4 linked regions of the Homo sapiens genome follow. The protein of the gene in region 4 purifies or fractionates together with the protein of the main gene of each other region. This does not show direct contact. Each region holds a gene or a part of one and is shown on either strand. Other genes may lie near its edges.

Region 1 (3,500 bases), on a different chromosome or scaffold from region 4:
GTCATCAGTCCAGAAGGACACCTGTGCCCCATTGAAAATGAGCATTGTCATTATCTAATATTCTGTTGAATTGCTCATTAGCTGGGAGGGTACTATTATTAGTGGTGGTAGTAAGGATTTACTGAGTACTAAAAGTGAGAATGGAATTATACGTTGAATTGGTTTTTGAGGTCTTTTTTAAAAAACTGTTTTATTATCATCCATTTCTTTCACATCAGTTTTATAGGACTTCATATTCATTTTCTTCCATAACAAATTGCCATCTCTGCCATAACAAATTACCACAAACTTTGAGGCTTAAAACTATACAAGTTTTTCATTTCACAGTTCAGTAGGCGAGTAGTCTGACATGGATCTCACTGGGCTAAAATCAAGGTATTGGCAGTTTATTTTCTGGAGGCTCTAGGGGATAATCCATTTCCTTGCAATCCCCAGCTTCAAGAGGCCACCCACATTCTTTAGCTCATGGCCCTCATCCTTCATCTTCAAAGCAATGGCTGGTTGCTTGAATTTCTTCAGTGTCATTTTCCCATATCTGTGTGATGCAGTTGGGAAGGGGAAAAGACTCTCACTTTTAAGGATGCATGTGATTAGATTGGGCCCACGTAGATAATCTAGGATAACTCTCCATCTCAAGGTCTTTAACCTTATCTCGTCTGCAAGGTCTTTTTTTTTTTTTTTTTGCCATGTAAGGTAATATATTCACAAGATTTGGGAATTAGGATATGGGTCTCTTTGAGGCATTATTATTCTGACTACCACAGAACCGGAACATCTTTCCAGAATACTATTACACTAATTTAAAACTTTTATGGTTAGAAGAGTACAGACATGATCTGAATTAATGCTGAGAAAATTACATCACCTCTAGTTCTTTTTATCTTCAAATTCTTATCTGCCATTACCTGGTAAATATATTTTCTTAGATATTTTGTAAGCACCTTGTTAGCTTTTGCTATGTAACAAACCACTCCACAATTATTTATCATTGCCCACATATCTATGGGTCAGCTGACATAGGCTGGGTTTGATGGATATCTCTGATGACCTTGGCTGGACTTGTAGTGCATCTGTAAGTTTGCAGGTAAGCTGAGAATCATCTCATGTAGCCTGGGGCTCTGTGGAGGCAGCTCTGTTCCACATGTTTCTCATCCTTCTACCTTTGAGCTAGCCTAGGCATGTTCTTCTAATGAAAAGGCAGAAATGCAAACATGAAAGTAGAAACATGTGAAACTTCTTTTGGCCTAAGCATAGAGCAGGGAAACTGTCATCTTTGCTTTATTCTGTCAGCCAAAAGTAGTCACATGGACAAATAAAGGGGCTGGGAAATATACTCCTCTTTAGTGGGAGGAACAGCAAAGTCATTTAGCAAAGGGCTTGAATGGAAAGGAGGTAAAGAATTGGGACCAATGATACAATTGACCCATACTCAAACTTCATATCCCCCAAACTTGAACTAATCTCTGTGACTGCCTCCCTCACCAGAAACCTGTTTTGCCCTCTTTATTTCTGATCTTAGTTAATGATTCTATTCTATGCCTAGTCACCCAAGCTAGATACCTAGGAAGTATTTTGGAGTCTTTATTCTCTCCTTTTCCCATCTTCAATATTTACTTTTTTTTTTTTTTTTTTTGAGACAGGGTCTCACTCTGTCACCTACCTGGAGTGCACTGACATAATCAGCTCACTGCAGTCTCAGACTCCTGAGCTCAGGTGATCCTTCCAAATCAGCCTCCTAAGTAGCTGGGACCACAGGTGTGTACCACTATGCCCAGCTAATTTTTTTGATTTGGTAGAGGCAGGGTCTTGCTATATTGCCCAGGCTGGTCTTGAACTCCTGGCCTCAAACAGTCCTCCTGCCTTGGCCTCCCAAAGTGCTGGAATTGCAGGCGTGAGCCCTCGTGCTTGGCCCAGTATTTAGCTTGACAAGTATTCTCTAATCTGCCATCTTTTCCAGTCTTATTACTGTTGCTACTCTGGTTCAGGTTCTCATATCTCTGAGAAGAAAGGGCGGGAACAGACTCTTAATTGTTTTCAATCCTACTTCCTTCAGGTCTCTCTCTTATATTGCAGCCAGAATACCTTGCCTAAAATACAGATGTTACTCCTGTTTACTGACTTCTTATTGCCTCTAGAGGATGCCCCCCTATGCTCTGTCTTTTCTAACCTCATCTTCCACTCTTGCCTGCCTTCTCTTTTACCGTTTTAGTTCAGAAGTCAGCAAACTTTGGCGAGTCAGCCAATCTTGTTTACCGACTATATTTGCACTACAGTGGCAGCGTTGAGTCATTGCAGCAGAGAACATATGGCTCACAAAGCTAAAACATTTACTATCTGGTCCTTTACAGAAAAAGTTTGCCAACTCTGCTCTAGTCATGTAGAACTTATAATAGCTTCCTTCTTATACCATTTTATTTTGTGCCTCAGTACTTTTTATTACGTTGTTTCTTTACCTGGCTAACTCTATTATTTTTTAAATAATGGCTTTATTAAGGTATCATATAATTACATATCACACAATTCACCCATTTAAAGTGTACAGTTCATTGGTTGTTAGTATACTCACAGTTGTGCAGCCATCACTGTAATCAGTTTTAGAGCATTTTCATTGCTTTCCCAGAGAACCCCATGCCCATGAGCATTCACTTCTTGTTCCCCTAACCTCCTCTTCTAGCACTAGACAACCACCAGATCTACTTTTTAGTCTCTTAGGTTTGCTCATTCTTGATATTTGGTATAAATGGAATAATATGTGGGCTTTTGTGACTGGCTTCTTTCACTTAGCTTAATGTTTTTAGGGTTCATGCGTGTTGTAGCATTGATCAATATTTCATTCTTTTATTAATTGTTGATTAATATTCCATTATATGGACATACCACATTTTATGTATCCATTCATCAGTTGATAGACATTTGGGTTGTTTCTACTTTTTGGCTGTTATGAATAATGCTGCTAAGAACATTTGTGTACTAGATTTTGTGTCATATGTTTTCACTTCTTTGGGGTGCTAACACTTCCTTATCCATTAAGAATTGACTTTGAGGTCATTTCCTCTATAACTTTTCCCTAGCCTCCTAGGCTGGATTGAATGTCTTTTCTGTCAGGCTCTGATGATGCTCTTGTATTACTACATTATATTGAAATGACCTGTTAGTATGTCTTTCTGATCTACTCCTCTGTAAGTTTCTGGAGAGCAGCATCAGTGCGGTAATTCAACTTATTCATGACTTCAGACATTGGAAAAGTTCACTTCATGTTTGTTGAATTAGAAAAACTGTAAAGCAGTCTATGCTTTTGAATTAAAATATAATTCATCCTTTGTTTTTTTTTCTCTTATGTACACTGGCTTTTTTTTTAAAAAAAATCTCTTAGGATATATATTGATATAACTCAACTTTATTTTCTTTTAAGGTCTGCAAAGAAAACAAAAAAAGGTGCTAAAGAAAAAACACCAGATGAGAAAAAAGATGAAATAGAAAAAATAAAAGCATATCCCTAT
Region 2 (3,500 bases), on a different chromosome or scaffold from region 4:
ATACCCAGTAATGGGATCGCTGGGTCAAATGGTATTTCTATTCTAGATCCTTGAGGAATCGCCACACTGTCTTCCACAATGGTTAAACTAATTTACACTCTCACCAACAGTGTAAAAGCATTCCTATTTCTCCACATCCTCTCCAGCATCTGTTGTTTCCTGACTTTCTAATGATCGCCACTGAATGAAGCTGTTAACAACAACTAACCTGCCACTCAGTCTCACCACTTGGAAGGTGAGACTGACTCAGGTGTTTGTAACTCTAGCACCTCTGGTCATATGTGTGTATATATAGTCATTAATTTATTTCTTAATAAATACCTACTAAGCTACTCTGAGTCAGGTGCTGCAGGGAAACCAATACTGAAAAAGCATAGTGTGATTGATGCTGGCAGAAACACGGCTGTAGAAAACCTGGACCTACTGGGTTCCGAGGTGAGAAGATGTTATTTTTTTAGAGTTAATAGATTGGTTTTACTAGCAACTTTGCTGGATGTCAGAGAAAAGTAATTCTACGGTATAAACTTCATATACATTTTGCTTAATATAATACTCCCTTTAAATACAGTTTTAGAGGCTATTACAGAATTTCAGAATAGGGAAGTACAATCTGGTCCAACTTCATTTTTGACATAGGAAAGTAAAAACCAAAAGGTAAAGGTTTTTGAATCAAGACAAATGTTTACTAAACATGTACTTACTATAGATTATATGCTATGAACTATGGCATATATAGGTACTGGGGATACTGAGACAGGAAAGGAATAGGTGTTAAGTGTGATACTGGAGCTGCAGCAAGGACATTGCATATATAGACGAGGAAGCAATGGATTTTGTGGATCACAGAGATGACCAGGAAGGCTAAAGGGAGGAGCTGATATTTATGCTACTGTTTTATTTATTTTTGCTACTCTTGCAGTTTAGACCACGTGGAGTGCCCACTGTAACCATTCAGACCTTTTCAAAAAAGCCTTTCACCAACAATATTGTTGGTGAGTCACTAGGGTCATTTTTATTTATGGCAGAGGCATTGGAGGTACGCCCTAAGAGTAATGAATCATCCTTATTTTCTATAATAGTAATAGCCCAAGATTCTTGCATGAAAATACCTTATTCTCTTGAAATATCACTTTGACTTTGGTGACTATGGTGATAACATTTATTCCATTACTTAGAACAAGACTTGCTACATTATAAGCACTCAAATATCTGCTGAATGAATAAGCATTGGCATTTATATAACTTTCAACATGTCTCCCACAATTACAAGCTACCAGAGTCTGCCATCCCTTGCATGTCATCATATATGAAATTTCTTCCTCATAGAAACCAACAAACTTTATGAATAAATCTATACTTCAGAGTTTCTCAATTACCTGCTTTTTGCAAAGAATGCTCTCTTAGAATAAGTTCTTGAGATTTTCAAGTGTGCATAAAAAGGAATGCTCTGTAAAAGCCTTGGTTTAGTTTTTTGCTCACCCACCTGAAATGCCCTCTTTCCTTATGTGTGAAAATCCTTCTTTTCTTCAAGCTCATCTATTTCATGAAGGTTTCCCAGCTTCTTTCCCCTCCCGGATCCTCTGCACTAACCACTGCCCATGTTCCTACTTTGTCACTAACTTGCTCTTGGTTAAATGCCTTATATATTCATCTAGGCTGTGTGAATCTTGAAAATAGAGGATACATTGCATGCTTCTTTTCTGTCCTCCATAATCAAGTAAGACACTTCACACAGAAATAAAAATATGTATCATTTAATTAAAGAACACTTGATTTATGCATGTAGTATTTGCAAGACCACGCAAGAACTCTATGCCAAATACCTCTTAAATATAGAGGAGCACCTCTTTCCCCTTCACCAAAACCACCTCCTCTAAAACCAAATGGATTCCAGATTTTAATTAAACAATAAATAATAAAAAATATTATATAACAATCTAATGTGCCCATCTACAGAGATATTATTTCTATTAAAAATTCATTCATTCTGAAGGTTCCCATGTAATAAGAAAAAGAAACAAAAAATTCAGTCTGTGCTATCAGGGCATCTATATTTTGAGGAGGATGGCAACGTGCCTACTGAGCATTACATAGGTGCTAAGAAACCATGACTAACAGAGAAAGATGTAAAACCTGAGTAAGCTCCATTATGTGCTCTAAGTATGAACTGTTATGGCAGTAGTAGTTTACACTAAAGAGAAATACTTCAGTAACTCATAGAGACTCTGGGTAACTGAAGCTGTCACAAAATCAAACTCCAATACAGGTGACACCGGGAGAGCTGTAAGACTATGCAAAGTATCCTAACTGTGTGTACATAACACAGTAGAGAGAGTCATATACTGATATCAAAAAGGGAATAAACACAATTAGAGACAGAGTAAAAGACTAACAAGTTAGAACCTCTAGTTGTCTACTTGTTTCTGGGGAAGAAATTGTTGTATAGTATGTCACAAGCAACAACATTACTCTAGGACATACCTGAAGTCAGCTGTAGCTGCAAAGGATTCCATTTCTGTAATAGAGAAAACACAGAGGAACCCCTCCCCACTTCGGAAGTAGTTGTCTCTAATTGCAGCGTAGTCCTCCTGCCCAGCTGTATCTAAGATATCGATCTGGACTTCCTCCCCATCTAGCACTACCTTCTTCCGATAGCTGTCTGCTTTGGTAGGCTCATAGTCCTCCACAAACTAGAAAAGATAAAAACACACCAATTTTTTAATTATTACGTTTCAAAACTTATTTTGAAATAATTATAAATTCATGTGAAGCTGCCAAAATAGTACAAGAAGAGTTCTGTATACCCTTTGCCCAGATTCCTCCAATGGTAAAAACTACACTAATTTTAATTTTAGACAATTTCTTGGTTTCCTCATTTGCAAACAGAGAGGGCTGAGTTATTACCTCTAGGCTGTTTACAGCTTGAAAACAGCTTTTCTTCCTTAAAACACAATACCTGCAAAAACTATTACACATATATTTTACCAAATTTATAATAGTCTTTTTTCTATGTAACTCTGAATATAAATTTTCATGCTAGAACTGTGGAAATAACTTAAAGGTCAATATTTTGGTAAGCACTGAAAGTATCATTAAATCCTTTCTTTTTCTAAAATGAACTAAGTCAATAAAGTGATTTACACTACTCAACAGAAAGTCAAATCTTAAACTTTATGAGACTTCTTCCCAAACTTTTGATTTTTTAAATAGTACAATTCAACAACTTTACATTCCCACTCCTATCGTCAGCCCCATAAATCTCACTTTAATATACCTTGATAAACCGTAGGCAGGCAGATGATAAGTATGTGTATATGTACGCAGACAAGGCCTTACTATGTTGCCCAGGCTGGTCTTGAACTCCTGGGCTCAAATAATCCTACTGCCTTGGTCTCCCAAAGTGTTGGGATCACAGGTGTGAGCCACCAGGCCCGGCCTATCTTTTGATATCATTGTTAGCATGTATTCATTTACACACAGACATTTGTGGGTTTTTTATT
Region 3 (3,500 bases), on a different chromosome or scaffold from region 4:
TAAATGATATCCAGTCTTGTAAGAGTGTGCTAAGTAGACACTGTCATTGATTGTTGGTGAGGGTGTGACTTGGTGCAGGCTTTCTGGCAAGTAGTTTGGTAATATGTATCAGAAAATTTTTTAAAAACATTAGCCAGGCATGGTGGCATGCCTATAGACCCAGCTGCTTGAGAGGCTGAGGCAGAAGGATTGCTTGATGACCCAAGAGTTCAAGGCTATGTCAAATGCACAGCCCCTTAACCCAGCAGTTCCACTGGTAGAAATTAAGCTATAAATATTTCCAAAGGTATGCAAGATAGTTATGCAAAAATATCTATTGTAGCATTGCTTGTGATTTTACAACCCCTGCCAACTGAAATTCTGTAAGAGGAGAACTGCTTACATTACGATACATCCATATAATAGAAAGCTATGTGGCCATTAAACAGAATGAGTTAGCTCTTTTTGTGCTAATGTGGGAAGATCTCCAAGATATATTAAGTGACAAAAGCTAAGTGTAGAATAAAATGTAGGTAATGAACCCAGTTGAGTAGGGATTTTTAAAGGATGTATATGATTTATTCTGATATATGCACAGGGAAGTTTCTAGAGATATAAACAGGAGTTTAATGGTGATTTCCTTTGGGGGAGACTAGGAATAAATGATGGGAGAGATTTTTTTTTTTTACACCTTTCTATAATTTTTTTTTACATGTGCATGTGTTATATCCCACACCCCCTTTTTCAAATAGCTAAAAGCAAAATTCTACAGTGGTGAGATCTAGCAGAGAATCTGTTCACCCAGATGTAGTTTCCAGAATTTACATACTTTTAGTCTACTCATTTATATAGTCAACTTTTCTTTTTGAAATTACGAATACCTAAATCATTTATTTCATGATCTATTTTTGTTTTAAATTACTATGAAATGTTTTAAGATGTATAAAACGATAAATTAATACTTCACTCTAAAAACACAGTCTTTTAAAATTATTAGTGCCTAATCTGGCATTTTTGGCATCTTAGAGGAGGCAGAGTGATGTGATAAGAAAAATCACATAGACTTTAGAGTCATCCAGACCTGGATTCACATCTCAACTTAATAAAAACTAGCTTTTAACCTTGGGAAAGTTACTTAAAATAGCTGAACTTCAGACGATCAAGCCCTACATTTGCAGAGTAATTATAAAGATTAAGTGGGAAAAAAGGTATCAGTCCCTAACATATCATAATTACTCAAGAAACCTTCATTTCTTCTCTTGTCATCTCTCCCTATCCCTCGAAGATGACTTTCAGTCTTTGTCTGGGTTGTCTGGCTCTTTTATATCATACTTAGAAAACTTGGGGCTGGGCGCAGTGGCTCACGCCTGTCATTCCAGCACTTTGGGAGGCCAGGCGGGCAGATCGCTTGAGTTCAGGAATTCGAGACCAGCCTGGACAACGTGGCGAAACCCTGTCTCTGCAAAAAATACAAAAATTAGCCGGATGTGGTAGTAGTGCATGCCTGAAGTCCCAGCTACTCAGGAGGCTGAGATGGGAGGATCACCTGAGCCCAGGAGTTTGAGACTGCAGTGAGCTGTGATCACACCACTGTACTCCAGCCTGGGTGACAAGAGTGAGACCCTGTCTCAAAAAAACAAAAGAAGACTTGGTAATTTAGCAATGTTTGGATGTAGTATCAGAGCAAGGTGACATATGCAGTAATAAATCGTTTGGGTGGTTTTTTTTTTTTTGCTTTAATTACAGAATTTGGGGGAATTACAGAGTATGGGCAGGATCTCTAGCACAGCTCATCTTGTGTGCCATTGTTAGGAATTGTTTCTAATGCTTGACTTACCCCACAGAATATATTTACAGTAGCAACACAGGCAATGCCTTAGTCTTCGTTATAACTTTGTCTTCTGATCGACTCTGTTCAGTAGCAGGGACTTACTATCCTCTTTGGTCTATAGACAGTTTGGAGATCACCAGATAAGAAGCATACCTCACCTTGCAGTTTCATTCAGTTTCATATTCTCAGAAGCTCTTAAAGGGCTAAAATTCTGGCAGCAGCTGGAGAAATCTGCATTGCTCAGGGCCTGAGTGACTGTGCCCCTTTAGTGCTGAAAGACCAGAGGTGCAATTGTCCCGTCCTCACTGCTCAAGCCCCCAGGCCCCTCACTCCCTGACTGTACTCTAGTCTAATGGTCTCCTTTCAGTTCCTTGCAATTGCCAAATGCATTCCTGCCTCGGAGCCTTTGCGTATGCTTTTCCTTGTTCCCACCATTCTGTTCTCCCACCCTCACCACAACCTGTCAAATATCAGTTAAATCTGAGGCTTAAAAGTTCTGTCATTTTGAGCTGGGCATAGTGGTATATACCCATAGACCCAGCTACACAAGAGGCTGAGGTGAGAGGATCACCTGAGCCCAGGAGTTTGAGACTACAGTAGCTATGATGGTGCCACTACACTCCAGCCTGGGTAAAAGAGTGAGACCTCATCTCTTTAAAAAAAAATTCTGCCAGGAGCGGTGGTTCATGCCTATAATCCCAACACTTTAGGAGGCTGAGGCTGGTGGATCACTTGAAGCCAGGAATTCAAGACGAACCTGGGCAAAAAGTGAGACCCCTGTCTCTACAAAAAAAATTAATTTTTTAAAAAAACTAGCTGGGCAGCTGGCGTGGTGGCTCACACCTGTAATCCCAGCACTTTGGGAGGCTGAGGTGGGTGGATCATGCGGTCAGGAGTTCGAGACCAGCCTGGCCAACATAGTGAAACCCCATCTCTACTAAAAATACAAAAAAAAAAAATTAACCAGGTGTAGTGGCGGGCGCCTATAATCCCAGCTACTTGGGAGGCCAAGGCAGGAGAATCGCTCGAAACCAGAAGGTGGAGGTGGCAGTGAGCCGAGATCACACCATTGCACTCCAGCCTGGGCAACAAGAGCAAAACTCTATCTCAAAAAAAAAAAAAAAAACTAGCTGGACATGGTGGCATGTACATACAGTCCCAGCTACTCAGGAGGCTGAAGCAGGATGATAGCTTGATTACCCAAGAGTTCAAGGCTGCAGTGAACTATGATTGTGCCACTGCACTCCAGCCTGGGCAACAGAGCAAGACCCCATCTCGTTTAAAAAAAAATTATATTATTTGAATGGGTATCTTGTTTGTTTTAACTGTAAATATTTACAGTACTTGGTTTTACTTGGGAGATTTGTATAGCTTACAAATCTTGTCCCTATGGATTCAGTTCTCTTACCCACAGACACAGAACCAAAATCAGGAGTTCCACAAGGAGTGGTGGTGAGTCCTGCCTTTGGCAAACACGCACCTGCAAGCTTTGCTCTAGGGATTGAATCCCTTACCCAGTGGGGCCCATAGGCTAGAGGACTTTGTGGAACTTTGGAACTTGTCTTAACAATGGAGGAGGGGATAAAATAAGTTTATCTTTGGGCTGGAATTTGTACTAATTTTTCTTTCTCTTGTAGCACCGAACAAGATTTGTGATGAAATGGAGCCTGGAACAAACTCTTTTCGGGTA
Region 4 (2,815 bases):
GTGGGGGACAAAGCCTGAGGTTGGGCGGGCCTGGGGTCAGGGGCACGGCCTGAGGTTATGCTGGTGGTGGAGGGATACATCTCTCCTTGCCACAAGGCTCCTCGGCGGCCCCTCCCACAGGTGGCCACCCTGATCGACCGCTTTGTGAAGGGAAGGGGCCAGCTAGACAAAGACACCCTAGACACCCTGACCGCCTTCTACCCTGGGTACCTGTGCTCCCTCAGCCCCGAGGAGCTGAGCTCCGTGCCCCCCAGCAGCATCTGGTGAGTCCCCAGAACTCTGCCCGGCAAGGTGGGTCCGTGTGCTGGCGCTCACTGTCCACCCACCGTGTCCCCAGGGCGGTCAGGCCCCAGGACCTGGACACGTGTGACCCAAGGCAGCTGGACGTCCTCTATCCCAAGGCCCGCCTTGCTTTCCAGAACATGAACGGGTCCGAATACTTCGTGAAGATCCAGTCCTTCCTGGGTGAGCCAGGGAGTCCCTGGCCAGGGTGGGCAACACAACGGGGGAAGCACAGACTCCACTCGGGGGTGCCAGGCCTTTGCCTCGCCGGGCCGTCTGCTGCCAGGGTAACTGGGTGGTCACCCGCCCTCTGCCCCCCGGGGTGTGTATGGCCTTAGGGGCTGTGGGTTCTGACCCCAGCTCGGGGCGCCAGCCACCTCCAGGGTCTCCCACGCCTGGGGGTCAGGCGGCTAGGCAAACCCAGGCCCTGGAATCCCTAAGGAAAAAGGGAAGCCCTGTAAGGCAAGTGGGCTTCCTGCAGCCTGTGGTCAAGGGCCTGGGGGTGTGAGGTGAGGCCTCAGCTCGGGCCCCTCTCCCGGCGGGCAGGTGGGGCCCCCACGGAGGATTTGAAGGCGCTCAGTCAGCAGAATGTGAGCATGGACTTGGCCACGTTCATGAAGCTGCGGACGGATGCGGTGCTGGTATGGCGAGCGGGAGGAGGGGCGTGTGGAGGAGGGGCCCGTGGAGGAGGGGCGAGTGGGAGGAGGGGCGCGTGGAGGGGGGGCGTGTGGGGGGGTGCGTGGAGGAGGGGCGCGTGGAGGAGGGGCGCGTGGAGGGGGGAGCGTGGGGGGCGTGGAGGAGGGGCGCGTGGAGGAGGGGCGCGTGGAGGGGGGAGCGTGGGGGGCGTGGAGGAGGGGCGCGTGGAGGGGGGAGTGTGGGGGGGCGTGGAGGAGGAGGGGCGCATGGGGGGGTGTGGAGGGGGGCGCGTGGAGGAGGGGCGCGTGGAGGGGGGAGCGTGGGGGGCGTGGAGGAGGGGCGCGTGGAGGGGGGCGCGTGGGGGGGGCGCATGGGGGGGCGTGGAGGGGGGTGCGTGGAGGAGGGGCGCGTGGAGGAGGAGGGGCGCATGGGGGGGTGTGGAGGGGGGCGCGTGGAGGGGGCACGTGGAGGGGTCGCGTGGAGGAGGGGCGCGTGGAGGGGGCCGTGTGGGGGGGCGTGGAGGGGGGCGCGTGGAGGAGGAGGGGCGCATGGGGGGGTGTGGAGGGGGGCGCGTGGAGGGGGCGCGTGGAGGAGGGGCACATGGAGGGGGGGGCAAGTGGAGAAGCCCTGGTGGAGGGGCGCATGGAGGAGGGGCCAACGGGGGGTGGGAGGGCGTGTAAGGCGGGTCTGCAGTGGGGCGAGGCCTTAGGAAGGGCAGCATCTTCCCGTGTGGTGGGGCCTAGGGAAGGGCAGCCATTGAGCTGAGGTCAGCTGGCCGGAGACCTCCGAAGTCTGGAGAGGCTGCGGTGGGCATCTGTGGGTGGGGCAGTTTGGACACAGGAGAGCCTGGCAGCCCTCTGGCGGCGCTGAGGGAAGGAGACCCTCCTTGATGGCTGCCCGGGGTCTCTGGCAGCCGTTGACTGTGGCTGAGGTGCAGAAACTTCTGGGACCCCACGTGGAGGGCCTGAAGGCGGAGGAGCGGCACCGCCCGGTGCGGGACTGGATCCTACGGCAGCGGCAGGACGACCTGGACACGCTGGGGCTGGGGCTACAGGGCGGCATCCCCAACGGCTACCTGGTCCTAGACCTCAGCATGCAAGGTGGGCGGGGCGGCCAGGCCAGGGCTGGGGGCAGAGCTGGGGGCGTGGAGGTGGGCGCTCTGAGTCACCCCTCTCTCTGTAGAGGCCCTCTCGGGGACGCCCTGCCTCCTAGGACCTGGACCTGTTCTCACCGTCCTGGCACTGCTCCTAGCCTCCACCCTGGCCTGAGGGCCCCACTCCCTTGCTGGCCCCAGCCCTGCTGGGGATCCCCGCCTGGCCAGGAGCAGGCACGGGTGGTCCCCGTTCCACCCCAAGAGAACTCGCGCTCAGTAAACGGGAACATGCCCCCTGCAGACACGTCTTGTGGCCTCCGAGGACTTTCTGTGACCCCACCAGCGTGGCCCCTCTCCCTCTGGTCTTGCGCCCCCAGGCCAGGTGGGGGCCCTTGGAGGTCTTCCTGACCCTGCTGCCACTGTGCTGAGGGCCAGGCCAGCACTCAGGGTGGCCCCAGGAGCCGGTGGTGGGAGTCCTGTGCCCCTGTCCCCACAGGCTTGGCCCCGGCTAGGACATTCCCGGGCCCCCCTGCTCAGGCCCTGAGCACAGACACAGGCAGGACCACGACCGTGGACTTTATTCATGTCCAGCAGTGAAGTCTGTGGCCCCGGCCCCGGCCCCGGCCCCGGCCCCAGCCCCAACCCCAACCCCAACCCCGGCCCCGGCCCCGGCCCCGGCCCCAGCCCCAGCCCCAGCCCCAGCCCCAGCCCTCCGCAGGGCCCGGGCAGCGTCTTCCGTGGCCCGCCTGGGCCTGTGGTTGTGCGGGAGGCACCTTCTTAGGGCCTGGTCCTCAGTCCAGCTCC

The links.
Region 1: the proteins of MSLN (region 4) and MRPL1 fractionate together in Homo sapiens (co-fractionation; one large-scale study listed by BioGRID). This does not show direct contact.
Region 2: the proteins of MSLN (region 4) and RALA fractionate together in Homo sapiens (co-fractionation; one large-scale study listed by BioGRID). This does not show direct contact.
Region 3: the proteins of MSLN (region 4) and ZBTB43 fractionate together in Homo sapiens (co-fractionation; one large-scale study listed by BioGRID). This does not show direct contact.

The regions. Positions count from the first base shown.
Region 1 is NC_000004.12:77,879,830-77,883,329, forward strand, and holds part of MRPL1 (large ribosomal subunit protein uL1m precursor), read left to right. Parts: intron 1-3,412; coding exon 3,413-3,500.
Region 2 is NC_000007.14:39,689,572-39,693,071, reverse strand, and holds part of RALA (ras-related protein Ral-A precursor), read right to left. Parts: intron 2,691-3,500; coding exon 2,482-2,690; intron 1-2,481. UniProt on the Homo sapiens protein: Multifunctional GTPase involved in a variety of cellular processes including gene expression, cell migration, cell proliferation, oncogenic transformation and membrane trafficking.
Region 3 is NC_000009.12:126,829,040-126,832,539, forward strand, and holds part of ZBTB43 (zinc finger and BTB domain-containing protein 43), read left to right. Parts: intron 1-3,447; 5' UTR 3,448-3,470; coding exon 3,471-3,500. UniProt on the Homo sapiens protein: May be involved in transcriptional regulation.
Region 4 is NC_000016.10:766,548-769,362, forward strand, and holds the end of MSLN (mesothelin isoform 1 preproprotein), read left to right. Parts: intron 1-96; coding exon of another isoform or gene 97-120; coding exon 121-263; intron 264-337; coding exon 338-465; intron 466-828; coding exon 829-923; intron 924-1,831; coding exon 1,832-2,018; intron 2,019-2,100; coding exon 2,101-2,186; 3' UTR 2,187-2,315; downstream 2,316-2,815. UniProt on the Homo sapiens protein: Membrane-anchored forms may play a role in cellular adhesion. Megakaryocyte-potentiating factor (MPF) potentiates megakaryocyte colony formation in vitro.